Homo sapiens: one gene and its partners. The protein of the gene in region 2 interacts with the protein of the main gene of each other region in a pairwise test. Each region holds a gene or a part of one and is shown on either strand. Other genes may lie near its edges.

Region 1 (4,686 bases), on a different chromosome or scaffold from region 2:
AATTTTTGTATTTTTTTGGTGTCTATAGAGACAAGGTCTTTCCACGTTCCCAGGGCTGGTCTCAAACTCCTGGCCTTAAGCAGTCCTCCTGCCTTGGACTCCCAAAATGCTGGGACTACAGGCGTGAGCATCGATGTCCAGCCATGTCATCCCTTTTATTTTATTTATTTATAAGATGGAGTGTCACTCTGTCTCCCAGGCTGGAGTGCAGTGGCTCGATCTTGGTTCACTGCAACCTCTTCCGCCTCCTAGGTTCAAGCAATTCTCCTGTCTCAGCCTCCTGATTAGCTGGGATTACAGGCATGTACTACCATGCCTGGTTAATTTTTGTATTTTTAGTACAGATGGGGTTTTGCCATGTTGGCCAGCTGGTCTCCAACTCCTGACCTCAGGTGGTCTGCCCACCCCGGCCTGCCAAAGTGCAAGGATTACAGGCGTGAGCCACAGTGCCGGACCTAATTTTGTTTCAGACAGCGTCTCGCTCTGTCACCCAGACTGGAGTGCAGTGGCGCCAAACCTCCACCTCCCCAGTTCAAGCAATTCTGCCTCAGCCTCCCGAGTAGGCTGGGATTAGAAGCATGCATCACCACACCCGGCTAATTTTTGTATTTTCAGTAGAGACGAGGTTTCACCATGTTAGCCAGGCTGGTCTCGAACTCCTGATCTCAAGTAATCCGCCCACCTTGGTCTCCCAAAATGCTGGGATTATAGGTGTGAGCCACCTTGCCCTGCCTTCCCTTTTAAAGAGAAGGTTTAAATGTGATTTCTAAGAGCTTTCCCTAAATTATTACCATTTTTTTTTTTTTTTGAGACAGAGTCTTGCTCAGTTGCCCAGGCTGGACTGCAGTGGTGCAATCTTGGCTCACTGTAACCTCTGCCTCCCGGATTCAAGGGATTCTTGTGCCTCAGCCTCTCAAGTAGCTGGGATTACAGGCCTGTACCATCACACCTGGCTAATTTTTGTATTTTTAGTAGAGACAGACTTTCACCATGTTGCCCAGGCTGGTCTGGAACTCCTGGCCTCAAGTGATCCACGTGCCTCAGATTCCCAAAGTGCTGGGATTACAAGCACTTTGTGTGAGCCACTGCACCCGGCCTGTTACCGTTTCTTAACTGTTTTCTTATCCTTACATTTTTGTCGTTTTTACTAATTGAAGAAAATGAAGATTCTTAAATATATTTTGCTGTAACAGAAGTATATATGTGTACATCCTTTTTTTTTTTTTTTTTGATGGAGTCTCACTCTGTTGCCCAGGCTGGAGTGCAGTGGCGCGGTCTCAGCTCACTGCAACCTCTGCCTCCCAGATTCAAGCGATTCTCCTGCCTCAGCCTCTGGAGTAGCTGGCATTACAGGCACCTGCCACCACACCTAGCTAATTTTTTTGTATTTTTAGTAGAGACAGGGTTTTACAATGTTGGCCAGGCCGGTCTCCAACTCCTGACCTGAGGTGATCTGCCCACCTTGGCCTTCCATAGTGCTGGGATTACAGGCATGACCCACCACACCCAGCTGTGCATCCTTATCTTTAAAAAAATTTACAAAATAATAAAATTGGGGGTTTAGAGTACTGAACTCATAGGAATTAACTTTATTTCTGTCTCTCAGGAATATATAATTTCATTTTTCATTGTCATAGTGCTAAAATCTTTTCCGTTCCTGTTCCCCAAAATGTCTTAAAGTGTATATGATTACATAATTTACATATTTTTGGATATACCTTTATTAAAAATACAGGTTGTTTTGGAATTGTTTGGTATTTTAGTATTTTTGAGCCCTTTGGCATTCATCAGAATGTGTTTGACTATATTTTTCTATACTTGCTTTTAAAAGTCATTTAGCATCCTTTCACTAGGTTATAGAAACATTAGTAGTCATTAATTACATATGATAGTGTACTAATTCAGTGATTATATATATTTTTTTCTAAATAGGGTTATTGGGGCTGTGCCATCGGCAAAGCCAGGCAAGCTGCAAAGACGGAAATAGAGAAGCTTCAGGTAATAATTAATGCTTGAATTTTTACTATGTCGTCATCCTAATGCAGTGAAATTTTATCACCACAGACATTTCAGTCTAAGGCAGGGATGTCCAATCATTTGGCTTCCCTGGGCCACACATAAAATACACCAACACTAATGATAGCTGATGAGCTTAAAAAAAAATCTCATCATGTGTTAAGAAAGTTTACGAATTTGTGTTTGGCCCCATGTGGCCTGTGGCTGGGGAAGCTCGGTGTAAGGATATAGTGTGGTTTGATGTTGAGAGTTTATGAAGCTGCTAAGTCACTGAATGGGAAAGCTGGTAACATATTATCTGTAGAGTTGTGTTATACATCCCTTTATAGATTCTGAATAACTGCTATAAAGCCTCAATCTAGAAAAACACAACTTTTGATATGATTTCACAAAATCCTTGAAACCTATTTATGAATCTCTGTGAGCTCTAGTTTGAAAATTTTGTTTAAAATTTTGAGTTAATAAAAAGTTATATTTTTCCTATATTCTTTCTTTGGAACACAGCTTTTATGTCTGGCTGTGCTCCACCGGTTCTCTTAGCTTTGCTCCTAGCCAGGTAAGGCATAAAGCCTACACTCTTACGACTACCCACTTTTTCTTTCACAAAATTCAGCTATTAGTGTGAAAAAGTTTTCTTAAAAACTTGGTTTTCCTTTTAGCCATGCGTTGATCAACTTAAAGACTTCATGGATACTGTTTCAATATTATTGATTACCTGTCAGAAACTTGCCTAAAAAGCAGGCATACCATTTATCAGTGTTTTGGTAAACTGAAGTGAGATACAATTTCACATACATTTAATGTTAATGCTGTACTAGAACCCTGCTCAACTAATTACTCATTCAACTTATTTAAGACCAGCTTCTAGAAAATACTTATTAGTGCTTGGCATTTATACAATGCTAAGTTCTAGAACCCCCTATAAAACCTAATTTGTTTCGTATTTTAGTAAAGCTGACAAAAGGATCTTAGAGGTCATTTAGCCCAAGCTCAACTGCAGATTAAACACACTGCATAGGACCACAGAATCAGCTGGTTCTGAACAGTATCCAGACCTTATGAGTCTTAGACCTATGTTCTTTTCCATTGCACACTTACTAGTATGATGCTAGGTTCCTATCTTCTACTCTTTTCCTTTTGTTTTCATCTCTCCATACTATTATATGGAAATTTGAAAATTAGAATATTTATGTCAGTTGAGGGGGATTACCCCTGTAATCCTACCAGTTTGGTAGGCCAAGTTGGGAGGACTGCTTGAGCCCAGTAGTTCCAAGACCAGGCTGGGCAAAAGAGTAAGACCCTATCTCCCAAAACAAAATGTTAGCGAGGTGAGGTGGTGCGTGCCTGTAGTCCCAGCTACTTGGGAGGCTGAGGCAGGAGGACTGTTTGAGCCCCAGCCAGGAGTTGGGGGCTACAGTGAGCTATGATCACGCCACTGCACTCCAGCCAGGGCAACAGAGCGACACCTTATCTCAAAAAAATAAAGGAAATTAGAATATTTAGAGCAGTTACTATCTGTCTTTCTGTAGTTAAATCCTAGCAAGGAATGGGAAAAACAATAAATCCCAGAGAAAAATCAAGAAAAAAAAATCACTTTAATTGAGGAACACTTTCAGTTTGTGACAAAATTATGCTGTGAATCAGGTGTTGCAAATTATGGCCCACTGCCTGCTTTTGTGTAAGTTTTATTGGAACACAGCTACATTCAGTCCATGGCTGCTTTTAGAATACAACAGTAGACTTTAACATTTGGAACAGGGAACAGAAACCAGAGCCATACAGCTAATAAACTTGAAAATATTTACAAGTTGATGCTTTACAAAATCCATCTGCTGACCCCTGCTCTGTACCATTGTTCTCTTCTGATGGTCTGTTTACTAAAAAATAAAAACTTCACAAACATGTAAAAAATAGATTTGCCATTTAAAATGTGCTTTTCAAGTTTGACTTTTTAGGATGCAATTAATTCACTAAATACAGAACTTAACTAAGGACAAAAATTTAAAGATCAGCATTCTTTCCCTTCCCATCACGCTCAACTTAACATGAAGAACTGTAAACATCCTAAGCTTACAACAAACCTATCTAGTTAGACTTCAGTTAACCACTTACACATCCCCCTCCCCCATGAACTATTTGGAAAAAGCTGCAGGCGTAATATTGGATCCCTAAATACTTTATTCTCCTTATACCATTATCAGACCCAAGTATCATCTAATAGTCCATAATCAAACTGCCTAAGCAGTTTCTACACTGTCTTTTTAACTATTTCAAACTATCAAGGTTCGCATTTTCTTCCTTAGAACTTTTAGTCTTTTTCTTCCCCAAAATATTTGAGTCCATGCCAGTTGCCTTTAGTTGTACCCAAATAATGGTTTGTCTATTTCCTAAAAGTAGTACTCTTAAATTTAAATTTAGTGTTATTTTTGTTGTCATTGTTCCTTCTTCCTCATGTGGTTGTGCAGGCAGAGCTTGAGCATCCAGATTTCAAAATTAAAAAATAAAAGATAATCTAGTTTAATATATAGTAGTTGAATCACCTTAAGTCTAGACTGCTGTATGAGCACCCATTATCTTTCACTATATTCCATCATCCCCCAACATATCCACAGTAGATGAAGGGCAGTTTGCTCAAACATTGTTTTGATCCTGTCATGTCTGTTCAGAAAT
Region 2 (5,115 bases):
TAAAAATAGAATTACCCCAGAACTCCTGCTTCCAGGTATATATCAAAAAAAAAAAAATGGAAAGCAGGGTCTTGAGATATTTGCAGACTCATGTTCATAGCAGCAGTATTCACAATAACAAAGAGGTGGAAGCAACCCACATGTCCACTGATGGAAGGATAAATGTGGCGTGTACATACAATGGAATATTATTCAGCCTTATGAAGGAAGAAAGTGCTGTCACATACTACAACATGGATGAACTTTGAGGACTTTATGTTAAGTAAAGACATAGTGTATTATTCCACTTATCTGAGGTGTCTAAAGTCAAATTCAGGGGCTGGGCATGGTGCTTCACGCCTGTAATCCCAGCACTTTGGGAGGCCAAGGCAGGCAGATCACTTGAGGTCAGGAGTTCGAGAACAGCCTGGCCAATATGGCAAAACCCTGTCTCTACTAAAAATAGAAAAATTAGCTGGGCATGGTGGTGCACACCTGTAATCCCAGCTACTCGGGTAGCTGAGGCATGAGAATTGCTTGAACCTGGGAGGCAGAGGTTGCAGTGAGTCGAGATCACGCCACTGCACTCCAGCCTGGATGACAGAGCAAGATTGTCAAAACAAAAAATAAAAATAAAGTCAACTTCAAAGAAACAGTAGAATGATGGTTACCAGAGGCTGGGGGAAGGAAGCTGGAGGAAGGGGAGTTTTGTTTAATGGGTACAGAGTTTCAGTTTTGCAAGATAAAAAACTTTTGGAGGTCGGGCATGGTGGCTCGTGCCTGTAATCCCAGCACTTTGGGAGGCCAAGTCGGGCGGATCATGAGATCAGGAATTCAAGACCAGCCTGGCCAATATGGTAAAACTCCATCTCTACTAAAAATACAAAAATTAGCCAGGCGTGGTGGTGGGCGCCTGTAATCCCAGCTACTTGGGAGGCTGAGGCAGGAGAATCACTTGAACCCAGGAGGCAGAGGTTGCAGTGAGCCAAGATCGCGCCACTGCACTCCAGCCTGGGCGACAGAGCGAGACTCCATCTCAAAAAACAAACAAAAACTTGGAGATCTGTTTCACATCAATATGAATATATGTAACACTACTGAACTGTACACTTAAAAATAGTTAAGATGGTAATTTTTATGTGTTTTTTACCACAATAAAAACCGAACAAAACAAGGCATGATGATTCATGCCTGTAATCCCAGCACTTTAGGAGACCAAGGTGGGAGGATCACTTGAGCCCAAGAGTTCAAGACCAGCCTGGGCAGTGTGGCAAGACCCAATCTCTCATTAAATAAATAATAATAACCAAACAAAAAAATAACCACCACTTTTCACACTCACCATGGCAAAATTTAAAAACCTAACAATTCCAAGTGTTGTCAAGGCTATAGGACAACTGCTGGTGAGAGTGCAAATTGGTATAACCACTGTGAAAAAAAAGTTTGGCATTATGTATGAAACTTGAGCATAACATATACTTTATAAGCCAGTAATACCTCTACTACGTATATATTCAACAGAAATGCATACGTATGTGTAACAACATGTATAAAAATGTTTATAGTGGCATTTCTCGTTATAGCCCCAAACTGGATACCACCCACATGTCCATCATCAGTAGAATGGATAAATAAATTGTTGTGTATGCATGCAATGGGACTACACTGCAACGAAAATGAATGAACTGCTGCTACAGGCAACCTGGATGAATCTCACAAACATGATGTTGAGCGAAAGGAGCCAGACATAAAAGAATGCAGACTGTATGATTCCATTTTTGTGAAGTTCAAAAACAGGCAAAAACTAACCTATGGTGTCAGGATAGTGGTTACCTTTGGGGAGGAGGGTGGGTAATGGGAAAAGGGGCACAAGGGGAGGATCTTTTGAGGTGCTAATAAGGCTTTATCTCTTCACCTGGTGGTGGAAACTCAAGTGTGTCTACTTTGTGAGAACTGGGTTGTGCACTTAAAACTGGTGTGTCTTTATGTATGCTGTTCTTCAATAAAAAAAATTTTTTTAATCACGGTTTATCAGGATTCAGCTGCCCATTAGACACCTTTCTGTGTCTCTCTCTCTCTCTCTCTCCAGCTCTTCACAGAGGTCCTCCAGGATCAAGGGGACCACTGATTCCACCACTGCTGAGTCTCCCACCTCCTCCTTGGGGTAGAGGCCCAATTCGGAGAGGGCTTGGCCCCAGGTCTAGCCCATATGGTCGTGGTTGGTGGGGAGTCAATGCAGAACCTCCTTTTCCGGGGCCAGGCCATGGGGGTCCCACCAGGGGAAGCTTTCACAAGGAACAGAGAAACCCTCGAAGGCTCAAAAGCTGGTCTCTTATCAAGAATACCTGCCCGCCCAAGGATGACCCCCAGGTTATGGAAGGTGAGGTCCATTTTGTTATGCCCATTACTCCCAGAGTGACCTAATTTTCAGAAGATCATTCACAATCTTCTCTGGGCTTTCCTTTTTGCTTTTGAAGCAGAAGTAGACCTCAATGTTATTTCTCCCAGGAGAAAGACTACCATTCCAAAATACCTGGAAATGGTAGGGGGTAGAAAATCAGTTCTCCTTCTGTCTCTGCGTTTCATTGTATTTGTTTTCTTTGTTGCTCAAATTTTTAACTGTTCCATTTTCACTTGTTCACAGACAAATCCGACCGCCCTGTCTGCCGACATTTTGCCAAAAAGGGCCACTGTCGATATGAGGACCTCTGTGCCTTCTACCATCCAGGCGTCAATGGACCTCCTCTGTGAGACTGTGCCTTCCCATCCAGGCTGGAAGGAGCTCTCTGTGACCTAGCGGCCATTTATTTCTCTGTAGCCCTATGATGGCTACTGTGAGGCTCTTCTAACACCCTCAGTCAGTGACACACCCATCCCATCCACCACTTCCCCCGTGTGGGGTCCAGAGTGGTGTTGCATCACTGGTGCGCGGCATACGCGCTTTCTTCTGATCCAGCCTGTAGAGACTCGCCTTTGGGACCCATCTTTGCTTCCTTTCAGTTGCCTCCTGGATCTTCTTTCCCGTCATCAAATGACTGCTGAACAGGAAACCTCTTTGGTGCTGTTTCTTGTGCATCTGTCCACCTGTTCCCCAGTATTGCCCTCAATTCCTGAGAGCCCTGGAGCGGTTTCCTACCATTCCCTTCTTTTAGCTGCTTGTTTTAAGTCCTTTTTATGTGACATTCCCTACCCCCAATGTTGTCAGCTGCTTGTGAAACTCAGCCAGGTTGTCTAACCTGGGGTCAAGTTTGGGTGACTGGTGCAGAGTTACTTCCTAAAAGGCCACTCTCCCTGCCTTTGGATTTCATAGTTTCTCTGTCAGTAGCATGATCCCCACCGCTATGGTCTATCTATGATCACCGTGCTTTGTGAAACTGTGCATCCCCTTGTAGCCTTTCTCAGTGTCCGTGGCATTTTTGTGACTTCCCAGCACTAGAATAAGTTTTCCTGCCAAAATGAGTGAGGCGCTTGGTGCCCTCTGGACTTTCCCACTTCCCAACATGGGAGAATTGTGAACTTTCCATCAGACTGCCTCCCTGGCCCTCCCCATTCTTCTCCTGTTGGTTATTCTGAGTCTGACACAGACCCATGACATGTCTTATAAAGCCTCCAATGGCTTTATCCTACCTAGATCCCTTCCAGCCCATTTTAATTAGACTATGTCATTGTGAGGCCACCAGTCCATTCATTTGAATTCTGTGAATCTCCACCTTGCCTATCTTTGGGTAGAAGCTGGACAGTACTGTTGCCCTCTTCCAATCCTCTTCCCCTACATCCCTGGCACTGGTTGTTTTCTGTGAAAACAGCAGTGAACAGGTTCAGTTTTGAACTGGCCCTGAGGAAATGGGTCAGGAGTTGTATTGGCAAGAGGGAGGGGTGAGAGCTGTTGGAGAACTGAGAATGAGGTTTTTTTTTTTTTTTTCTTTTTAACTTTTTTTATATTAGTAATAAATGCAGTGGAAACCAGCATTTTATTTAATCCCTGTGTTCTAGTCATCTCTGGAGTTGCAGATGAAGCTGTTCTCACCTGGTGGAGTCAGCTTATTCTTTAGTTCATACACACTAGTGATGGGGAATGACAAAGCTTAAGGTTCTTCCAGGCTGAAAAAAACCAATGGAGGTTCCATTAGCCTGTAGGCATCAACCAGAACAAGCTGCCTTATGTTCAAGGGCAAAGTTTTGTAAGAAAAAGGAAAGGCCAGGTGTCCGTGGAGTTATTTTTAAATATTTTACTTTGCAGAGTTTGTGTTTATGGAGTGGTAATGATGAAGGAGTCTTTCAGCAGCAATTTGCAGAATGCCTGTGGGCCAGGCAATATACCAAGCACTAGAGATAACTGACAGCCAAAGCCAATGGATTTAAAATGTACAGGGAAGACAGGTTTCTCATAATCACAAATAGCATGTAAAGTTAAACCTGTCAAAAGTGCTGGGAAGAAGACAGGGAAGAAAAGAGGGTGAAAGAGAGTTGTGTAATAAAGGGAGTCAGGGTAGGAGATGCAACTGAGACAAGCTCCAAAGGATAAACAGGAGGTGGGGTGGGAGAGGGAAGTCAAGGCAAAGGTCTTCGCTAAAAGACCTAGGGGAAGAGGAGCTAAGAAACCTAGGGACAGTGGGAGATGATGCAGAAGAAAGAGGAGTTAGACCACTCAGGGCCTTGGAAAACATGAAGATTTGGCTCTTTTCTTAGAACAGAAGCCTTTGAAGAATTTTAGACAGGAGTATCATGGCTTAGGCTGGCTTTTCAAAAAAAATCAGCTTGTATGGAGAGGGCCCACCTTGGACCTGGAAGTTAATTAGAAGGCTACTGGCTACTTCAGTAGTACAAGTGAGCCATGATGGTGACATAGACTTGGGTAGTAGAGTTGGAGAAAAGTAGACATTTGAAAATTACAGGTCAAAATAAAAGTATCAGATTTCTCCAGGTAGTTCTGGCTTATGTAACTGCCATTTAAAAAGAAGTCTTAAGATAGAAGTTTATGGCTGGGCGCGGTGGCTCACGCCTGTAATCCCAGCACTTTGGGAGGCCAAGGTGGGTGGATCACGAGGTCAGGAGATCAAGACCATCCTGGCTAACATGGTGAAACCCCATCTCTACTAAAAATAGAAAAAAAATTAGCCAGGCGTGGTGGCCGGC
Region 3 (4,185 bases), on a different chromosome or scaffold from region 2:
TGTGTCACAATCTCATATTGTTCACACCATCAAAATTGGAGTTAGCTCCATTGTCATTGAATGTACATTCTCTGATGAAAATTAAGACTCTTTTCTCCTTAATTGATTACTTTTTAGAAATCAAAGGTGTATTTTGTCTTTGATGCTTACGTTGCAAATGTAATTTGCTTCATAGTGGGTATCTGATTTAATATTTCATAGCCCTTAAGGACGTAAATTTGGGCATCCAATAGACCAAATTCTGTTCCTGACACAGTCACTTTCTAGCACTGCGACCTTGGACAAACTGGCCCGAGCCTCACTTGCCTTATTTGTAAAAAAATAGGCTATGGTAATACCTGCTACATAGGATTGTTGGGCAGATTCAGTGAAAGAATGCATATAAAGAAGGGCTTACTGTAGTCTCTGGTACACAGTAATTTTACTATATGGCCCCTAATGAAGAGGTGGGACAGACTAGCAAAAGGCATACTTTTATATCTTAGTACCCGAGATATGCATGGTCTTTAGGCTTTGCTCTTTACTTGCTGGGTGAGCTTCCATGTGGTAGTTCTCTAAATCACTGCTGCTTCAACTCTAGTAGGAGAGAGATGAATTCTGCTAGCCATCTGTAATGTTTTAAGTATTTGTTAATATTAGGAAGGTATAAATAATGTGAGTGTTGAGGAGAGGTGACTTCAGGTAGGAAGAAGGATCAAGAGAGGCATTGTGGAGCATATAACATTTAACCTTAAAAGATAGGTCTTATAGAGAAGGTGGGAGGAGAAAGAGGGCATTTTAGGTGGAGGACAGATAGGCAGAAACATGGAGCGTATTTGGAGAAGTATGCATATTGGATGCCAAACACTAGGTACATTTACAAATGTTCTCATTGCATCATTCAGTAACCTTCACAGATAAGGTTGCTAAATCTCATGCCAGAAAAGTAACTCCCAAGGACCCCCAGCTGGTGACATGGTAGAACTGAGAGTTGAATCCAAGTTTGACCAATTCTAGTTGTTTCGCTCCTTCTACTAAGCTTCATTGACTTCCAGCTAACAAATGTCTAATTTGTACTAAGATAAAAGAGAGTTGTGAGAAATAAATTGAGAAAATGAAGTTGGAACCAGGTTACTGAGGTCTTTGAGTAGTAGGCTAAGGAGTTTGGACTTAGGGTAGGCAGTAAAAGTCATTAAAGGTTTTTGAGCAACAATAATGGTAGTGAAACTAATTCACAAAGATTAGTCCAGTAGCACTGAGTAACATAAATGGCAGTGGGGGATGTTTCAAAGTGGCAAGTTTGCTAAGACAACTGATGTTAACCAGGTAAGAGAATGAGAGCATGAACAAAGAGCAATGGAAATAGACTGACAAAGAAGTTGAGGTAAGTTGTGAAAGCATAATTGACAAATATTTGGATATATGAAGAATGAGGAAGAGAGAGTAGATTAATCAAAATTACTGTGTGAGAGGATGGTGATGCCACTGGTAATAGGAAGAGAAGATTTAGAGGGAAGATTTGGACATAGTTGAAGATGCTGGTAGCACATTGAAGCATTGTGTCTTGCGCATATAGCTTTACAAAATGGCCATTGTGCTGGATATTCTTTTTGCCCTTCCTGATCTATTTTCCATCTTTATCTCTCTTGTTCTGTGTTCCTGGGAGGCTGACAAATAAAGAACTGCATACTCTCTTTTCTGGCTTTATTCATGGTGGGTTTGGACAGTGATAGAAAAGTGAGGCTGAAATATTTGCTCCTTCTCTTTCTCATATACTTAGCAAGAGATTGTGAGTGGCCACAGCTCTGCTCCAGTGGCCCTCTTATAGCTCTAGGTCTTTTCTGGCTTCTCGTAACTGTCTCCTATTGCTAGATTCTCTAGTCCCAAGAAGGTTCAAACCTTGTTGATTTGCCTTAACTGTGCCCATACCCTTGTAAATAGTTCCTTTTATTAAAACTCTTCAATAACTGAATATACTGTGGTCATCTCTTCAGTGAAATTAAAAAAAAAAACTTCTTTCACATTTTCTTATGACTTGATCTTCCCACACCACCAAACGTGAAGATCTAGCTATTTGCACTAGGTTACTATCCCTAAATTCAGTGCCTCCCTGTTTCTTAGTATGTCAAGTTAAAATTTGTTACTCTTCTGCTGGGTGATTGTGCTGGAAATACAGAAGAAAAAGACAAAAATCCCTGCCCTCAAAGAGCTTATATTTTACTGGGGAGAGACAGGCAATAAGACATAATCAATTATATGGTATGTTAGAAGATGAGAAGTATAGAAAAAATTAGGGTGAGGAATGGCGATTGTTGCAAGGGATGTTTGTGAGGATAGCATACTTTAAAATAGGTGGTATGGGTAGGTCTCTCAGAAAGTGACATTTGAGCAAAGACTTGAAGGAAATGTGGGAGTGAGCAATATAGGTATGGGAAGAGCATTCTAGGTAGAGGATTAGGAAGAGCAAAAGCCCTGAAGCAGGACTGTGTCTGGCCTCTGAAGAAATGCAAATTGTTCAGGGTTGTTGGACCTGAAGGAAGAGGAGGAAAGGAATAATGAGGCCAGAGGGGCCAGATCATGTAGGGATTTGTAGGTTGTTGTAAGGATTTTGGTTTTCACTAAATGAATGGTGAACCATTTCAGTTTTGAGCAGAGGAGTTCCATGATCTGATTTGAATTTTAAAAGATGTGTTTCCCAAAATTCCTATTCCTTTCATACAGCTGCTTTCAATGAAGGTTTATAAGGAAAGCAATCAGAACTACTTGGATAAGGTATAAGTGATCCACAATCTTTTCAACTCTACCATAGGTATCTACATATATATGTTGAGAGATGCTGCTTTTTGGCCAAAATGAATCTTGAATTGGGGGTGTGCAGAAAAAGTTATATCTGGCCTGAGGCTGGTATCTTTTAGAGTGGCCTACTTGCATGGTTGGCCCTTATCTGAACACGTGGATTTAGGGGTATTCTCACTGTTCACTAATAAAGGTGGTTCACTGTACCTAGACTGTTCAAACAAGATGATTTATGCTAAACACCTGCTTTCCTTCTGGGAGTATGGAATTTTGGTACATGCCAGGTAAAGGATGTCTATATGACCAAACTCCCAATGAAAACCTTGCATACTGAGTCCCTAGGCAGAAACATCCCTCGTATAAAAATGTGCTCTGTGTGAATCTTCATGGGAGGGAGAGATCCTAAAGAAGCCTGCACATGGATTCCTCCAGATTCTGCTTATGTCTTTTTCCTGTATGATCCAACTGTGTACACTTACTGTGTCACTGTAATAAACTTTAGCCATGAGTACGATACTTAGCAGTGCTGAGTTTTGTGAACCCTTCTATCAAATCTCAATATGGGCTTGGTCCGGGGGATCCCTGACACAGGCAGATTTTTTTTTTTTTTTTCAAAGAGTCACCAAGTTAATTGGAAAACATCAGGTTATGGATAGAAGGAGCAGTTGGGCAACCTGTCACAGAAGTCAGCCAGCTCTGTCTAGTGGAGAGCTCTTCTGAGCTGTTTCTGCTTTGTTAATTCCTTTTCTTTCTCCAAAAGCTTCCCTCCATTTGGTTTTGTCACACTTTATACATTTGTAACAAACTGCTGACCGGAATTTGTCCATCAGGTTATGAAAAATGGCAAATGAGGAGAGTAAAATTATGGATTTATTTATTAAGAACTATTAAAGTATTCATATGCTCTGGGACACCATTACTAGGAATTTAACCTTAACAGAACAGTTTATTGAAAAATTTATTGAAAGGAAAACAGTCTTTGCATAAAAATTATGACGTAGCAAAAAATTGGAAACTAAATGTCAAATATTAGGGAAATGTTAACTGTGGTCTGTCAAAAGGTGAAATATTAACTCAGTGTTATCAGGTGAATGAATTAACAAGATGTGGTATATACATACAATGGAATATTCAGCCATAAGAAAGAATAAATTTCTGGTATATGCTACAAGATGAATGAAAACATGCCAAGTGAAATAAGCCTGCACAAAAGGACATACTATGATTGCACTTAAATGAGGTACCCAGAGTAGGCAAATTCAGAGAGATAGAAATGGGAAATTACTGTTTAAGGGATACAGAATTTCTTTTCAGATGTTGAGAAAGTTCTGAAAATGGATAGTGGTGATTGTTATACAACATTATGAATGTACTTAATGCTGATGAATCGTATATTTAAAAATGGTTAAA
Region 4 (4,277 bases), on a different chromosome or scaffold from region 2:
AAGTCCTGACCTCAGGTGATCCACCCGCCTCGGCCTCCCAAAGTGCTGGGATTACAGGCATGAGCCACCACATGCGGCCAAATTTGCCTATTTTGGACATTTCATATAAATGGCCCCTGTGATCTGTGGTTCTTTGTGACTAGCTTGTTTCCCGTAGCCTAACTGACTTGTATTTTGGTTGGACCCCTCAGGCTGCTGGTGGAAAAAGATACTGTCAGGGACAGGGGTGGAAGCAGAGAGCCCTCAGGGAGGCGATGACTGCAGTGGTCCTGGTGGGAGATACTGGTGGTTGGGCCAGGGTGGGGGACCAGGAAGAAAGAAGTTGTATGTATTTAATTTGAAGGCAGAGACGATAGCTTCTGTATGTGGATGGTGTCTTAGTAAACAAAACAGTGAAGGTGTTTAACCTGAGCAGCTGGGAGGATGGAGCTGCATCAGCTGAGATGGGGGTGGCTGAGGAAGGAGCAGGGTGGGGGAGGATCAGAAGCCCAGCTCCGAGCAAGTGAGTTTGGGGCGTTTTTCGACAATTGAGAGTACACAGCTGGAGACAGGAGTCTGGAGCCCAGGCGAGAGGTTCAGGCTGAGCCCAGGAAGCTGGGAGCCCCTGTATGCAAACTGTTCAAGCCCATGAGCATGAATGAGACCCCAGGTGAGTACAGACTGAGGAAACCTACCAGGCTGGGGGCTGAACTGGAAAATCCTGCTGTCCTGGTTGGAGAGAGTCTCAGGGAAGTGTCCACCAGTGCCCAGACACCCCAGCTCTCTCCCAGACCTCTCTCTCACTTCCTCAGGATCCAGCAGTGTGGTGCAGTATCCATATAGTTCAGAACCTCGTCAAATGTTGGCCCTTGTCCGAGCGCAGTGGCTCACACCTGTAATCCCAGAACTTTGGGAGGCCGAGGTGGGTGGATTGCTTGAGGTCAGGAGTTTGAGACCAACCTGGCCAACATGGCAAAACCCCATCTCTACTAAAAATACAAAAATTTAGCCAGGCGGGGTGGCGCCTGCCTGTAATCCCAGCTACTTAGGAGGCTGAGGCAGGATAATCGTTTGAAGCCGGAAGACAGAGGTTGCAGTGAGCCGAGATCACGCCACTGCACTCCAGCCTAGGCTACAAAGTGAGACTTTGTCTCAAAAAAAATTAAAAAAATAAAAAAACTGTTGGCTCTTACTGTGAGTGAGATGGGAGCTGCCTGGCCTAGCAAGGGACTTCCAGGACCTGTTTCCACTAAAGCTGGCAGGACTTTTTCTCCTCCGGGTACAAAGACTGGCCTGCCATGGAGCTTCTCTTCCAAGGCATGATCTGACTTAGGTTTTAAAAGGATCATTCTGGGGCCAGGCGCGGTGGCTCACACCTGGAATCCCAGCACTTTGGGAGGCCAAGGCGGGCGGATCGCCTGAGGTCAGGAGTCCGAGACCAGCCTGGCCAACATGGTGAAACCCTGTCTCTTATTAAAAATAGAAAAAGTAGCCGGGTGTGGTGGCGGTCACCTGAAATCCCAGCTACTCGGGAGGCTGAGGCAGGATAATCGCTTGAACCCAGGAGGTGGAAGGTGCAGTGAGCCAAGATTGCACCACTGCACTACAGCCTGGGTGACAGACCAAGACTGTCTTGGGGCTGGGGGGCGGGGGTGAGAAGGATAGTTCTGGGTTCGGGTAGGGGGGAGGTGAGGGAAGGAGTGGGAAAGGGGAAATCAAGGCAGCATCGAGGGTCGCTCACCCCTTACCTGTATTTCTCTCTCTACAGATACATCAGCCCACAGCAAGGCGGGCTCCAGCAGCCCGGAGCCATGGGCCCGGCCCTCCTGCACTCCCCAGGAAGGGGGCTGCCCACGGCCCAAGGAGCGTGAGTCACCACCCCCTTCGGCCCTGCAGCCGGTCCAGCTGCCTCGCCTGGCCTTGTCTCCACCACCCCCAGCCCCTCCACTGCCACCCCCACCGCCACTGGCCCAAGTGGCACCCTCACCCCCTAGCCCCCCACCCCCTCCTCGGCCTCCACCCACGCTCTCGGCCTCAGACCCCTCCCTGGACTTCCTGCGGGCCCAGCAGGAGACTGCCAACGCCATCCGGGAGCTGGCCGGCACCCTTCGACAGGGACTGGCCAAACTGAGCGAGGCCCTCAGCGCTCTGCTGCCCCTTCTGCCAGGAACCCCAGTTGACTCCCTGCCTCCACCTCTGCCCCCACCCCCACCCCCACCGCCACCTCCCAGGCCTGTCCTGCCCCCACCGGCCCCCAAGGTGGAGATCACCCCAGAGCCCGTGTCCGTGGTGGCTGCTGTGGTGGACGGGGCAGTGGTGGCAGCCAGGGGAGTGATCATTGCCCCAAGGAGCGAGGAGGGGGCACCCCGGCCCCCCCCAGCCCCGCTCCCTCCGCACGACTCCCCCCCACACAAGCGGAGAAAAGGTTTCCCTACACGGAAAAGGCGCGGCCGATGGAAATCTCCGTGAAATCTACTATCTATGATCCTGCCTGCAACCCCTCTCCCCAGCTTGGCGCAGTCGAGGGGGGCGATGCTCTCTGCCCATCCCAGCTGCACCCTAGCTCCCTGCTCCAGGGATGTGAGCACCCACTCCCTGTGCTAGTTAGTGCCTGATTCTCTGGGGGGGGCCTCAGTAATGGGCCCCCCCAACCCCTTTCTCTGGTACAGTGCTGTCTGCCTGGCTGCCTCCCTTAACCCTGACTTCTAAGCCATCAATTTCATGTTATTTATTATTGCCCTATGTGGGGTGGGGAGGGAACCTCTCGGGTCTGCACATCTCCCCTTCCCTAACAGTTCCTGTTCTTGACTTGAAGAGAATTGACCCGTGGGGGACTCCCCACCTCCCCAACCCAGACTTTGGAGCGGGTGGGAGTTGTAAGACAAATCAAAATACGGATGACAAAGAGGATATAGCCGTGTATACCCCAGGGAGAGGAGGCGCCGAGTTCTGATGGGAGAGGTACAGGTTGGGTTCTCTGCCTACCATTGCTGTCTCTGACTTCCAGAGCTCAACCCCCTCCTTTCTCCCAGTGGTGACAAGATATCAATAAACTTATTTTTAATACAATTACTTGAGGCTCTGTCTGAGACAGGCCTGGGGGACCAGCACCTACACCTGCCCCGCCCCCTCCACAGGCAGGCAATTGGGAGGCTGGTGGTTTTCCAGCTTTTTTTTTTTTTTAATTCTTAAAGCCATCAAGTCTTGTGTTTACATGAAATCTTATTCCTACTCTTCCTTTAGATACCAGTCTAAATGTCAACTCCAGGAGAAAGTCCTAGATTCCTTCCCCAAGGCTAACGTGGGTTTGCCTCTTAGAGTCTCTTTCAGTGTCCTGTGGTTCTTTTTCTTTTTCTTTTCCTTTCTTTTCTTTTCTTTCCGTTTTTTTGAGATAGGATCTCGTTCTGTTGCCCCAGCTGGAGTGCAGTGGCATGATCACAACTCACTGTAGCCTCGATCTCCCAGGCTGAAGCAATCCTTCTGCCTCAGCCTCCCAAGTAGCTGGGACCACAGGCATGTGCCACCATGCTCAGCTAATTGTTTTATTTTTCTAGAGATGGGGTTTTCTATGATGTCCAGGCTGATCTGGAACTCATGGGCTCAGGCAGTCCTCCCACCTCGGCCTCCCAAAGTGCTAGGATTACAAGCATGAGCCACCACACACAGCTGGGTTCTTTTTCATAGTGACTCTAAATGAACACAGGCCTTTATCTATTTAAGGCACATTTGCCCATAATGTCATGAAGGCAGGAACTGGTTCTTTTACTCTGCTGCAGGGCCAGGTAACAAAGTAGATAATCACCACCACTCTGGACTCAAGACGTGGCTCAAGTACTGGTGCTGCCCTGGCCAACTGTGTAACCATTGGCTTCCAGTGTCCTCATCTGTAGAATGGACATAAAGATGTCAGAGTCTTTCTTCCTATAATTAGATTATACTTTTCTTTTTTTTTTTTCTTTTTTTGAGGTAGAGTCTCCCTCTGTCGCCCAGGCTGGAGTGCAGTGGCGCGGTCTTGGCTCACTGCAACTTCTGCCTCTCGGGTTCAAGTGATTCTTCTGCCTCAGCCTCCCAAGTAGCCGGGACTACAGGCGTGTGCCACTACACCTGGCCAATTTTTGTATTTTTACTTATTTAGTTAGTTTTTTGTTTTTTTGTTGTTGTTTTTTGGTTTTTTTTGAGACGGAGTCTTGCATCTGTCCCCCAGGCTGGAGGTGCAGTGGTGTGAACTCATCTCCTGGGTTCATGGAATTCTCCTGCCTCAGCCTCCTGAGTAGCTGGGATTACAGGTGTGCGCCACC
Region 5 (4,686 bases), on a different chromosome or scaffold from region 2:
TTTCACTCCTGAATACTTCAGTCATTTAAAAAATAATTGCCTGCGTATACCAAGATGGTTTCCGCCTTAACTGTTTCCTTTTAAGCTACTCTGCTGAGTATGGATTCTTAGTGGAAATTCTTTTCAGTAAAGAAAACAAAAGTTCTCTATTTTCAATTAGTGCAAATCAGTTTTTCATTTATCATTCAGCGATTCTTTGATATAATTCATAGACTGACTTAACGTAAGAGAGAATAATAACCGTGAAAGTTGAGGGGGAAGGGAATTCTTTGATGTCCTCATTTACCATAAATGAAGAAAATAAGAAGCAATGGATAGGTGATTCATATTAATAATTGAAATTGTTAAAGTAAGTGTATGTGAACCATTGTCAATGAAAGGGAAGCAGTAACAATGATAAAATGCAAGTATCAGTAGGTTTTCATTGTTTTACTTTAGGAGAGATCTCTTGCTAGGTGCTCTGTGCCTCTTTGCATAGTTTCTAGAAGGTTGCAATAATCCCCTGGGCCTCAGACAACCTCTTCAACCTCATCTGTGTGGCCACTGGTAAGATCAAAGTCTTTGTCTTGGACATATTTAAGTTTTTGTAATTCCCTGAACATTCTGTGTCATCTTAGTCTTCCAGACCTTTGCTTATACTGCCTCCTCAGCCTAGAATGGTGTTCTTATGTTTCATTTGACTGTCTCCTTGTGTCCTTCTACACGTAGGTCAATCATTGCTAGGGAAATTTAGAGGTGGTAATAGCTAACCTGTTGAGCATTACTACAGTTCTTACATTTCTCTCTCCCACCTAGCTTGTGAACCTCTGGAAGGGCAGGAATGGATAGCTTTTATCTCTTTATACTTGGGAGAGAGTGCATACTGGGAGCCCACTGAATTATATTTTAACAAATCCCGTAATAGTTTTACAAGTTTGTTATTCAGCTGAGGAAGGATGTGTTTCCTCTCTTTGAATTCGTTACAGTTAAATGTGTTCCTACTTCCTAATAATCTTACCAGATGACAATAATAATTATGCCTCAGCTCTTCCATAAATGCTGAGTCTCCTGAAAGTATCAGGGACTCTAAAGGAGAGTAAATCTTAAATTCCTTTTAGGTAGGCCCAGTGTCTGTTCATTTCCACTTTGGCTTACATTGATTTCTTAGGTTTAGATTTAATACAGATGTGGTTGGATGATGTAGTAGAAATTGCCAGGCAGGTTGTGTGGGAAACCTGGATCCTATACCCCATTTTACCATAAATTTTAATATCGGGCAAGATATTTAACTTTTTGGGCTTCATAATCCACTTATTTCAGAAAGAACTATTGCCTTCATTACATGTATTCATCTTTCCATTCAATAAAGATTGGATTTCTACCGTGTGAGCCAGACACACATGTTGTCTGTCTCAGCATGTATACTCTAATTATTAGAGTCTGGAAATAAATTATATAGATTAATAAAACTGAAAAATTCTTGAAAGGTTAAAGTCCAAAGGAGGAAAAGCAAAAGCAAGAGACATTCAAGACATTTGGGTTTGCTGCTTGTACTTTTGATTGTTTTATTTATTTTTTATTTTTGTAAATGATAGGAAAGGCATTAAAACAATTGAATTGAGAAGTATTCTGTAGGATTAATTTACTCCCTTTTCCATCTGCTACCAAAGATAATGGGATAATGGCCCTGTAGAAGATTACCTGCGTTTTTCCAGAACCAGACAAAGGTTTAAGAGCTCTAAAGGAAAAAGTCAACCTTCATTGTTTGATTCCCACACTCACTCATGCCTGGCACTCTTCCAGGCACTGACTGTTACTGCAGCTGTGATTTCAACACAGAGCCAGTGCTCTTTCTGTCACATGGTAGCGTTGCCTTCAAATAACTGACGGTCATATCCGCCAGTGTTGTAATTTGGCTGGAATGCAGTATTTGCAATTTTATCAGCTTCATACAATTACAAGTCTTGCATACATAAAACAGCTGTGTGCTTTCCAGGTGTGCTTTGGGTGGTATAGTGGGACACCAAAGGAAAAGAAATACCATCATGAGTGCACCTCCTTCCCCGAGTTGAATTATCATCATGAAGGGTTCAGATTACAAACGTTATAGCTTTCCCACTTAATTTAGCATCTATTATTCCTGGCAGTGCCTTTTAAGATTACTAGTCAAGAGAAAAGATTTTCCTCATTTAGCTTAGCATTTTGTGAGCTGCCTTGGCACAGTTATAGTAAAAGCTTCAGTGGCTTTTTCAGTATAGTAAAAGCTTCACTGTATATAACAAACTTTGCTGGTACTTGGTATAAGGAGTAGATAAAGCCCTTCAGCTTGCTTACAGTGGCTTGCCATCAGTAGCACTGCCTTGCAGATACCCGTTTGACCTCATCTTCCTCCACTGACCCAGTTTTCTACTTCCAACTTTTCTAATACAGCTTGCAACCTCTGGCATAACTTCAGACCTTGGCCATTGGTCTCAACTGTTTGAAAACCTAAAGATTACTCACCCATCACGCTTAGTTTTGCAGCATGGTAGGGGGAATGGGAAGTAAATTCTTCTTAAAAAATTTTTTTATGTTGGGCTCGGCACGATGCTCACGCTTGTAATCCTAGCATTTTCAGAGGCCAAGGTGGGCACATCACTTGAGGTCAGGAGTTCAAGACCAGCCTGGCCAACATGGTGAAACCTCATCTCTACCAAAAAAAAAAAATACAAAAATTAGCCGGGTGTAGTGGTGCGCACCTGTAAACCCACCTACTTAGGAGGCTGAGGTGGGAGAATTGCTTGAACCCGGCAGGTGGAGGTTGCAGTGAGCTGTGATCGCCCCACTGCACCCCAGCCTGGGTGACAGAGCGAGACTCCGTCTCAAAAAAAAAAAAAAAAAAAGAAAAATCGTTTCTTTGTTTCTTGGATTTTAGATAGGGTGGGTGTATTATAAGATACCCAACTTAGAAAACCAAGGAGCTTGTAACACAAATAAATGGTTATTCATTCATGCATCAAATGGGAAAGTTGGCCATCTTTGAATATACTAAAATTATTACATGGAACTAGAACATCTTAAATTAGATTCTAAATTCCATGAGGGTAGGCACTCTCCCCCTGCCTCCCCTTCCTCCCACCCACCACACTTCACCTTTTTATTCCCAATAACTAGTATATAATGTCTGGCACATAGTAGGTCTTTAGTAAATATTTACTGAATGAATGAATGAATGGTCACAAGATGGTTTTTAAAAATTGTCTCCTGCAGAGAACCCACCACAGATGCCTTCTGTGTGATTTTTCAGTTTTATTCACATAGCAATTTTTATGTAACATAGTATTTAGTATATAGCTATGTAGAACAATCATAATATGTCCAGTTTTCAAAAGATTATTAACTTCTAAGGAAAAATTCTTTATCTCTAGGTTAATCTCTGGCTACTAGCTCAGTTTTTGGCACATTGTAAGCACTTAGTAAATGTTCGTTGGACTGAACCAACCCTATACAGAGACTTGATAACATTGTTCAGATGAAGATTACCATTGATTTTTTCTAAGTTCCTGGTAAAAGCATGTGATGGGAAGAAATATGATAGTATTTGAGAAAATAACTTTCCTAAGTTACTGTTGTCTTCTAGCACTGGACGGGTAGTCACAGGTTACAAATGAATAAGATTAATTTTGTTAGCTCCTGAAGGAAACAGAAAAACCTACTGTAAATCTCATCTCAGTATAAAAAGGGGCTTTAAAGAAGGATGTAATATTTGATGAGAAACTGCTCTCCACAAGGCACTTTGATATATGTCACGTTTTCCTTATAACCACCTACTATGATCTCTACTGTACAAATGAGAATTTAAGGTCAGGGAAGTTAAGTGCCTTGCCCAAAGTCACAGGACTGGTAAAGAAGGAGCAGATTCAGGATTCAAAGTTCAAGGCCTATGTTCTGTCTTGAAAAACCAGTGCTTTAAAAAACAAAACCAAAAAAAAAAACAGTGTTCCACTAGCCGAGGTTATAAATAAAATCTCTTCATCTTTGGAGAAAGTGTAACAGATGCTGCATGTTCCCTTCATCAGAAATGCCATAAAAGGGATTATAGGACACTGAATTAAATAACCTCTGTGTTCCTTGCAATTCACTAATTCCCTGGTTTTAAGCTACCCGAAGTAGGTAAATGGAAATGAACTGTTAGGAAGAAAGGGATGATGTTCGGATTAAAAAAATGAACAAAGCGCTACTAATACATTTATTGGCAAAAATAAGAATAACACTTTCATTTAAGAATTTCTCAACATCTGTACCTCTGAAAAGGGCTTGTCATTTCTTTGGAACTCAGAAACGTAATTTTTAAAAATCTCCTTGGAATATATCCAGTGATAAAGGTTTGATTTCTATACAATGTGTTTGGCTATATCAAACCAACTCAGTTTACTTTTCATCAACTTTCATTTAAAATTTACTATCTGAGGCCATTATTTCCAGAATAAAAGATGAAAAAAGATCACATCAGTGGTTTACTTAAACAAAATGAGGAAAATTCTATTTTTTAAAATCCTGCCACAATAGCTGCATTTTTCAGAAAGTATGCATTTCAATCTTTAAAGATACTCAGTGATTTTCAGATTATGTGTACTGCAAGTATTCTGATATAGTTTTAGGCCCAAGAAAAATTTAGTCAACGGTATCTGTTCTAGTTCTTTTTAAATACTTATATTATGCCCATTT
Region 6 (3,529 bases), on a different chromosome or scaffold from region 2:
GTCCAGTGGGAGACCCATAGTACTGCCACTTCCTCCATCCCTCACCCTGCTTGAATTCACTCTGGTACTTCCACCCAACATACCACATATTGTTGTCTGTTGCCTGTCTGCCTCCCACCTCTTTGCCCCTACAGACTATAGGCCACAGGACAGCAGAGGTTTCTATCTCAGTCCCTGCTGCAGCCCTACAGTGCAGAACGGGGCCTGGCACGTAAGGAGGCGCTCAATAGCTCATGGAATCAATCTAGGTGCTGGCACCACTCCAGCCTACCCTAACCTTCCGTACCCTCCAACCAGCATGCCAATTCCTCTGCCCAGGGCCCACCCCCACTGCTACTTCCTCATTCAGTACCACCTCCTCAGGGGGCCTGCCCAGACCACCCAACCTACAGCAGCCCCCCAACTGGTCCCTTTCTAGTCCTGTATTCTCACTATTTATATGAGACCTGGTGGGTGGGACTAGATACTCACAGGCTGGGCAGGGGGCATCTGTCCTGGCATAAGCTGCTGCGGGGGCATGGCCCCTGGTGGGATCTGGCCAGGTGCAAGGCCTGGCGGGGGGATCATACCAGGGGGCGGCATGTAGGGCGGCTGGCCCGGCATGTGGTGCATAATGCGGGGCGCCTGAGTCATCGGCGGCATGCCCTGTGGAGAGAGGGAGGAGAGTGCGTGGTTACAGCAGCCCCAGGAGGCAGAGAAGAGGCCATGAAAGGAAACCTAGCGGGTGAGAGATGTAAGGAAAAACACCCAGAAAGAGGCGCAAAAGGCACCCAAAGAGGGCCCGACAGAGCAAAACAAACCCAGGGTCTAGTGGGACATTAAATCAGAAAGAGTTAAATGCTATTTGTGAGGCTGAGGTAGGAGGATCACTTGAGCACAGGAGGTCAAGACTGCATGCAGTGAGCTCTGATTGTGCCACAGCACTCCAGCCTGGGAGGCAGAGCAAGACCCTGTCTCTTAAACAAAATCAAAGGAGAGGAAGAGATGGAAAGGGACAGTCAGGGCAGGTGCAGAAAGAAATGTGTGGTAGGCCGGGCACGATGGCTCACGCCTATAATCCTAACACTTTGGGAGGCCGAGGCAGGCGGATCGCCTGAGGTTAGGAGTTTGAGACCAGCCTGGGCAACATGGTGAAACCCCGCCCCTACCAAAAATACAAATATTAGCCAGGCGTGGTGGTGGGCACCTGTAATCCCGGCTACTAGAGTGGCTGAGGCAGGAGAATCACTTGAACCCGGCAACAGAAGGTTGGAGTGAGCCGAGATCACACCACTGCACTCCAGCCTGGGCAACAGAGTAAGTCTCTGTCTCAAAAAACAAAAACAAAAACAAAGGAGGGCAGTGATGGAAAGGGACACTCAGGGCAGGTGCAGAACAAAACGCGTGGCAGCAAGGGGAAGAGGGAAGACAACAGATGGCAGGCAGCACACTCAGGGGCTGGAATCACAATCTGAAGTCCAAAGTGGACAGAAAACTAGGTGCAGGGAAGAGGAGAGAGGTTAACAGGAGCCCACAGTAATCCAGACACCATCACCAACTTGGAGAAAGTGTGAGTGGCACCGAATAGAGCATGACCCAGTCAGAGCCATGAGACTCATGAAAGCCAGAGAGACACGGAGGCTCAGAGACCTAAGGAGTGGGCCTGGTTCATCCATCTTTTCTTTTGTACTCGGTGCTTTTTGTATCCTGTTTGGAAAACAGGATGTTTCCACTTTTCATGCCCTCACCAAGGTCATTTAGACATTTTCCTGTTTTCTTCTAGAAACTTTATTGTGTGAGGGCCGGGTGCAGTGGCTCACGCTTGTAATCCCAGCACTTCGGGAGGGTGAGGAGGGCGGATCACTTGAGGTCAGGAGTTCGAGACCAGCCTGGCCAACATGGTGAAACCCCATCTCTACTAAAAATACAAAAATTAGCTGGGTGTGGTGGCACATGCCTGTAGTCCCAGATCCTCGGGAGGCAGGGGCAGGAGACTCGCTTGAACCCAGGAAGCGCAGGTTGCAGAGAGCTGAGATCACACCACTGCACTCCAGCCTGGACTACAGAGCGAGGCTCTGTCTCAAAAAAAAAAAAAAAAAAAAAAAAAAGAAAAAGAAAAAGAAAAGAAAAGAGAAAAGAAACTATATTTTGTGAGTTGTCACATTTGGATCTGCAATTCACTTCAAGTTATATTTTGCATATAGTATGAGGTAGGGCTAATTTTTTCCCCTTGCAGATACCCAACTGCCCCGCATCATGAACTAGGGGAAAAAAAGTCCTTTCCTCAGTGAAGTGCAGTGGTACCTCGATCACACATCAAGTAATTATACAAGTGTAGCTGTACCTAGACTCTTCATCCTGTCCCCTTGGTCTGTCTTCCTACCCTTCTGCCAACTGTATATCATCCTGGTTGGTTGCTGCAGGTTTTTTTTTTTTTTTTGCACATGGACGTGGTGGCATGTGCCTGTGATCCAGCTACTTGGGAGGCTGAGGCAGAAGATCACTTGAACTTGAGAGGCAGAGGTTGCAGTGAGCCGAGATTGCACGACTGCATTCCAGCCTGGGGAGACAGATTGACTGAGACTCCCTCCCGAAAAAAAACAAAAGAAAACAAAACAAAACAAAAAAGAGACAAGGTCTCACTCTGTTACCCAGGCTGGAGTGCAGTGACAAAACCACTGTTCACTGCAGCCTTGACCTCCAGTTCTCAAGCGATCCTCCCAGCTCAGCCTCCTGAGCAGCTGGGACTACAGGAATGAGTCACCACGCCCAGTTTTCTATTTTATTTTTTGTAGAGATGAGGTCTTGCTATTTTATAGAGGCTGGTCTTGAACTCCTGACCTAAAGCAATCCTCCTATCTTGGCCTCCCAAAGTGCTGGGATTACAGGCATGAGCCATTGGGCCTGGCCTGGTTGCTGGAGCTTCCCCTGGTCATGCAGGTCCTGGTGCTTTATTCTCCTCGCCTGGCTTGGCCTTGTCTTTCCACACATTTAGAAAGAGCCAATCAGTGTCCAGTGTTTACCGAAATTCCTGGTGGGATTTTGATTGCAATCACGTTGAATCTTCAATTAATTTGGATGGAACTGACCTCTTGACAATACTGAGTCTTCCTATCCATTGCTGAGTCTCTGATTTCTCCCAGCTACATTCTGTGATTTCAGTGTAGTCGTTCTGCAAACCTTTTGTTGGATTTACCCCTCAGTGCTACTTTTCAATGTGAAGTCTACTGGTCTGTTACTGGCATATAAAAATAAAACTGGGGGCCAGCCATGGTGGCTCATGCATGTAATCCTAGCACTTTGGGAGGCTGAGACAGTGAGTTTGAGACTAGCCTGGGTGATATGGCTAAGCCCCGTCTCTACAAAAAATGCAAAAGTTAGCTGGGTGGAGTGGCACGGACTGACAGTTCCAGCTGCTAGGGAGGCTGAGGCGTATCACTTGAGCCTGGGAGGCGGAGGTTGTAGTGAGCTGTGATGGCGCCACTGCACTCCAACCTGGGTGACAGTGAGACCCTGTCTCAAAACATAATATGAATAAATAAATAAAACT
Region 7 (4,686 bases), about 88 Mb from region 2:
AGGAATGCAGAAAGTAAACTGAGTTAGACTAGACTAAGAGCATGAGCGAAGGGCAGGGCCCCATCCGTGGTAGGGTGCAGGTAGTAATGAGACGACCGGATGGAAGGAGCCAGACTGGGGAACACAGGCAGTGATGGCTGAGGCATCTGAGGCAGCCATTCTGGGTGGTAAATGGATCAAGTCCCAGCAAATTAGCTTACCTGTTGCCAGGGCACCAAGGAATATTCCTGGGCCTAGATGAGCACTTTAGCCAATGCCTTAGCTTGTGAAAATTGAAGACTGTTGTTTACTGTATGCCTAACACAGGTAGATGATACAAAAAGGCATAAAATCGCTACCTAGTGTCCTAGGCTAAAAACCTCAGTCAGCTTCACTCCCTTATCTCCTACATCTAGTCAGTCTCAACATTTTTTTCATTTCTGGAGGCTGAATTCATGTCATCTCCTATCTGGAATATTGCTTAGAATTTTCTAACTGATCTCCCCAGCTCTAGCCTATCATTTGCACTGCTACCAGCATTAACACAGATATGTTCTTTCTCTTTGGTTTTAAAACCTCAGATTATTAAAACCCTCAGAAGAGTATTCCCTTTTCTAAGGGATAAAATCTCAGTTCTTTAACTTCATTGACAAGGCCCTTCTCAGTTTGTCTCCAGCCAATATCTCCATTCATACCTCCTTTAACTCCACCATTGTTCTAGAGATATGAATCACACAGGTTCTTTAAAACGTGGTGATAATCTTTTCACGCTCTGAGCACGGTGGCTCACGCCTGTAATCCTAGCACTTTGGGAGGCTAAGGTGGGTGGATCACTTGAGCCCAGGAATTTGAGATTATCCTGGGCCACATGGCGAAACCCCATCTCTACAAAAACAAATTTAAAAAAGAAATACTTCACCCCCTGTGCTTCTAACATACTGTTCCCTTGGCCTGAAAGGTCCTTCGCTCACATCCTGAAAAATTCATCTTTTAATCTTTTTTGGAGCTTACATCGAGTGTATTCTCAGTGACGCCCTTTCTAACTCAGAAGGTAGAATCAATAGATTCCTTTTTTATGTGCTGATATTTCTTGTCACAAATTATCTAAGAACGTATGCCCTGTGATCTAAACATGTTTATTTTTCAGTCTTCTCTTCTAGATGCTATGCTTTATCCAGGGCAGGAGTCCCATCCAGTTCATCTTTATAATCTCGTGTGGCTCAGCTCTGAGCACTTAGTATTTTGGAATTCATTTGTAAATCAGTTCCTGCCCTGAAGGGGTTTATGATCTCTTGGCAAGACACCAGGATAGGGGACAGCCAGCCTTGTCCTGGAGAATATGCTGTTTGTCTTAGAGATTCTACACACCCCTGCACAGAGGGGTTAGATTACTTTCAGTGTACCCAAACGGATTCTAATATACCTGAAGTGGGTGGAGATGGGAAATATATAATAGTTCAGTACTGCTATGAGAACTCTTCCCCTTCCCTTCAGTAAATTGGTTCCCTTCAGTAAATTGGTTCTAGGCATGTTTCTGTTTTAAAATCTGTTGTAAATATAAAACATCTTTTAAAAAGCATTTTACAATTTGAAAAAGATTCAGTTTGAGCAAATTTAAGTAGAGAAGCTTACAGGCCTTTCAAATAATTTAGGATGCAGAAGTAATGAGCAGAGATCTTTGTTTTGACTCTAGCTGGCAATACTAGGCAGATGTCTGGACATCTTCCTGCTAGCCTTTGACTCACTCAGAAGAAAGACATGTTTAACTATTTAGAGAGGCAAAATCATGGCAGACCAAGAGATTACTATAGTAGTTTTAAAATACAAAACAAAAGCTGTAATTTAGTCTCTTTCTGTTGATAATGGTGAATTCTGTAAAACCTTTAGGCTGAATATACATTGTACCTCCTCTGTTCTTTTTGGCAACATGTACACTGACACCAAGGTAAAACTACGTGAAGATCACCAGCAGGAAATACTTTTGAATACATTTTTTTTGCTACAGCACTTTCAGCCAAAAGCTTAGGAGTATGCTTAATAACAAACACAAAAGATTTTCAAGGGTTTGTTTCAATAACAAGGCATTTATTTGTAAGTTCTTATAGTAGCCAAAAAAAAAAAAAAAAAAGTATTATCAGTACCTGTCAACCCAGGTTTCTTTTACTGTATCATGAATTATCAGTAAAGTATGGGTTCCTTAGGCCTGTGGGTCAGAGCAAGTCCTGCTTTTTTATATAACAATTTCAAGAAGTTAAGAGAATAAAAATGTAGTTCTAATTTTAGGAATAGGGCACTCTTTATGAGTGACTGATTATACTGTTTTATTCCCCATAACATTTTAATGAGATAGAATATTATCCACATTTTATAGAAGACTGGAATGACTAAGGGAGGAGGTTAGAGAGGTAAAGCCACACATGGCTAATACAGAGGTGTCGGGATTTGACCTATATCTATAACTGCAGTGCTTCCTTCTACAGAACAGGGCATTCTGTTACCCATGTCTTTTACATGGTTATGCACTCACACAACTTTGATTAACAGCACTTTTAATTCATATATTTGATTAGTATATTTGAGCTTTTCTTAGCTATTTCTTTAGATACAGTAAATTATTTGTTGCTTTTTAATCAAAAGTACTAAGGCTAGGAAACCAAGATTCTAAATTCTGTATTTAGGACAGGGGAGGGAAAGGTAGCAGCTCTAGAGATGGCATGTGTCTAAGTGATTCTTTGCCAGTTTCTGATGGGATTATTTGACCAATGGTATTCATTTAAATTGGTCCCATCTGTGAAGTGAGAAAACAGAGGTCAGGCATAGGAAGAGTTAGATTTTCTTTCTGGATTAAGTCTTTTCAGTGAGTTCCACTTAACTGATGGGACATTGCTGGGTTGAAATACTTGTAACAGAAATTAATAGTAGTTTTAAAAAACCTATGGCTAGTTACTCTTTGGTCTATTACAAACATCTCCCTTATAAATAAGCATGCATAATTGAGGAATAACTGAATGGTTCCATATAGCAATTTAACATGGATTAAAAGAAATAACACTTTTGAATATAGAAGACAATGTCTGAAGCCTTGGTATAGATCCAAATACTCTCAGTGGTATCTAAGAACAAAATTTTTATTACTAGAAATTCTCTTCACAAATACCTAGTGGGGTAGTAAATTTGCAAAAGTAGTCCTCTTATAAGATAATGTAGATTATAAGATGCTTTAGTAAACTCTGGAATGTCATTCCAATGACCCAAGACCACACATCTCTATCCACTAAACGTATCTGTTAACCTAGCTCAACTACTGATTATGCTGAAATAAAGTTGTTTTTGTTACATCACCATCAGTTCCAGTGGCTGAAACCATAAACTGAAGATGCATATTACTAACAATGCCAGTTAGTTTTAGATATTTTGAATCCATGTTTTGGGTTGCTAGACAGCCACCTTGGAAGTCTGATACTGAGGTGCTATTCACAGGAAGAGCCCCAAATTCACCACCCTGTGTGCCATGATACAGTATAAAATTTACTGTAGGTTGTTCATCTCTCTAAAGTAAACGTCACATTAACATCTCTCAGCATATAAAACCAGGAAGTAAGAGTTCCTCTGTGACACAGAGACTGCCTAAAACATGATGGAAACAGATTTAAAGTGAATGCAGCAGAAGCAGTTCTTTAACCCAAAAGGAAAGGGATAAGGGTTATAAGATAATAGATAATATAGTCTACTTCGAAACATATTTGGCATACACATTTACCAAGATTAATCTTACCTGAAATACAAACATATGCCTTCCTGCGGGAACAGGACCCACTAAAACAGAGTCTAAAACTTGATCGTATTCTTCACTTTCTGCAGAGCCCACATAGATAATTTTCCATTCCAAGTCTAGGGTTAAAAAACCAAAGCATTATTTCATATTCAGTAATTACATTACCAGATGACATCAAAGACCCTTTTAATGTCCACTTAGCCACTTACTGGCTTTAAAATTGGCTTCTCATAGCAATCCAGAAAGGCAGTGAAATGCTCCTTATAAAGTTCCTACCAGAGTTCACACTTTGATCAGAGTTTCTCAAAATACTCTTTTGTGAAACACTAGTTCCTGGACAGTGCCTCACAAACAAGATAACATAGCCAAACACTTGGGAAATGCTGTAAACCTTGTCTTGAGGATTCATAAAGCATGCTGGCACAGTAAGTTTTCTGAGATATCCTTCAGTAAAGAACACCAGTAACATTAATCCAGCACTTCCCAAATTTATTTGGCTATGGAATCCCCCTTTTTTTGTATATCATCTTTTAAGGCCCTTCTCAACACACTTTGGAAGGGCAGCCCTATACTACGCTGCAGAGATCCAAATAATCACAGAGCTCCAAAGTAGAAAAATTATTAGTAAAACCTCCCTCATGGCTCAGAAGTAAGTGGCTTCAGCTCATCAACTGTCAACGAACAATGGTAGGGTTTTTCCCTTACGGCACCCCCCTGTGTCATACATTCTTTAAATTGGGCAGAGGAAACCAAGATCTTTACACCACGTGATACAATAGAGTATACACAGTGGAGATAGGCAGGAGGAAAAGACATTCAGGTGCAATTCAAGGCGTTATATGTAATTCAATATAGCGGATTTTACTGAGCATGTTTTACAATGTGTTCTGTGAAGTGAACCCAGAGATGAGTAGAACTCTTTGGAGGAGTCT

The links.
Region 1: the proteins of PRR3 (region 2) and PSMA3 interact in binary tests that used the Homo sapiens proteins (3 or more experiments, as listed by UniProt).
Region 3: the proteins of PRR3 (region 2) and HNRNPA0 interact in a two-hybrid assay, tested with the Homo sapiens proteins (one large-scale study listed by BioGRID).
Region 4: the proteins of PRR3 (region 2) and MYPOP interact in binary tests that used the Homo sapiens proteins (3 or more experiments, as listed by UniProt).
Region 5: the proteins of PRR3 (region 2) and KHDRBS3 interact in binary tests that used the Homo sapiens proteins (3 or more experiments, as listed by UniProt).
Region 6: the proteins of PRR3 (region 2) and SNRPA interact in a two-hybrid assay, tested with the Homo sapiens proteins (one large-scale study listed by BioGRID).
Region 7: the proteins of PRR3 (region 2) and ASF1A interact in binary tests that used the Homo sapiens proteins (3 or more experiments, as listed by UniProt).

What each region holds. Positions count from the first base shown.
Region 1 is NC_000014.9:58,261,773-58,266,458, forward strand, and holds part of PSMA3 (proteasome subunit alpha type-3), read left to right. Parts: intron 1-1,932; coding exon 1,933-1,998; intron 1,999-3,592; exon of another isoform or gene 3,593-4,686. UniProt on the Homo sapiens protein: Component of the 20S core proteasome complex involved in the proteolytic degradation of most intracellular proteins. This complex plays numerous essential roles within the cell by associating with different regulatory particles.
Region 2 is NC_000006.12:30,559,766-30,564,880, forward strand, and holds the end of PRR3 (proline-rich protein 3), read left to right. Parts: intron 1-1,562; coding exon of another isoform or gene 1,563-1,601; exon of another isoform or gene 1,602-2,000; intron 2,001-2,068; coding exon 2,069-2,359; intron 2,360-2,623; coding exon 2,624-2,730; 3' UTR 2,731-3,958; downstream 3,959-5,115.
Region 3 is NC_000005.10:137,744,757-137,748,941, reverse strand, and holds the end of HNRNPA0 (heterogeneous nuclear ribonucleoprotein A0), read left to right. Parts: 3' UTR 1-3,291; downstream 3,292-4,185. UniProt on the Homo sapiens protein: mRNA-binding component of ribonucleosomes. Specifically binds AU-rich element (ARE)-containing mRNAs. Involved in post-transcriptional regulation of cytokines mRNAs.
Region 4 is NC_000019.10:45,888,794-45,893,070, reverse strand, and holds the end of MYPOP (myb-related transcription factor, partner of profilin), read left to right. Parts: intron 1-791; coding exon of another isoform or gene 792-901; intron 902-1,747; coding exon 1,748-2,448; 3' UTR 2,449-3,048; downstream 3,049-4,277. UniProt on the Homo sapiens protein: Transcriptional repressor; DNA-binding protein that specifically recognizes the core sequence 5'-YAAC[GT]G-3'. Dimerization with PFN1 reduces its DNA-binding capacity.
Region 5 is NC_000008.11:135,582,387-135,587,072, forward strand, and holds part of KHDRBS3 (KH domain-containing, RNA-binding, signal transduction-associated protein 3), read left to right. Parts: intron 1-4,686. UniProt on the Homo sapiens protein: RNA-binding protein that plays a role in the regulation of alternative splicing and influences mRNA splice site selection and exon inclusion. Binds preferentially to the 5'-[AU]UAAA-3' motif in vitro.
Region 6 is NC_000019.10:40,760,017-40,763,545, reverse strand, and holds part of SNRPA (U1 small nuclear ribonucleoprotein A), read right to left. Parts: intron 646-3,529; coding exon 472-645; intron 1-471. UniProt on the Homo sapiens protein: Component of the spliceosomal U1 snRNP, which is essential for recognition of the pre-mRNA 5' splice-site and the subsequent assembly of the spliceosome. U1 snRNP is the first snRNP to interact with pre-mRNA.
Region 7 is NC_000006.12:118,899,950-118,904,635, reverse strand, and holds part of ASF1A (histone chaperone ASF1A), read right to left. Parts: intron 3,871-4,686; coding exon 3,755-3,870; intron 1-3,754. UniProt on the Homo sapiens protein: Histone chaperone that facilitates histone deposition and histone exchange and removal during nucleosome assembly and disassembly.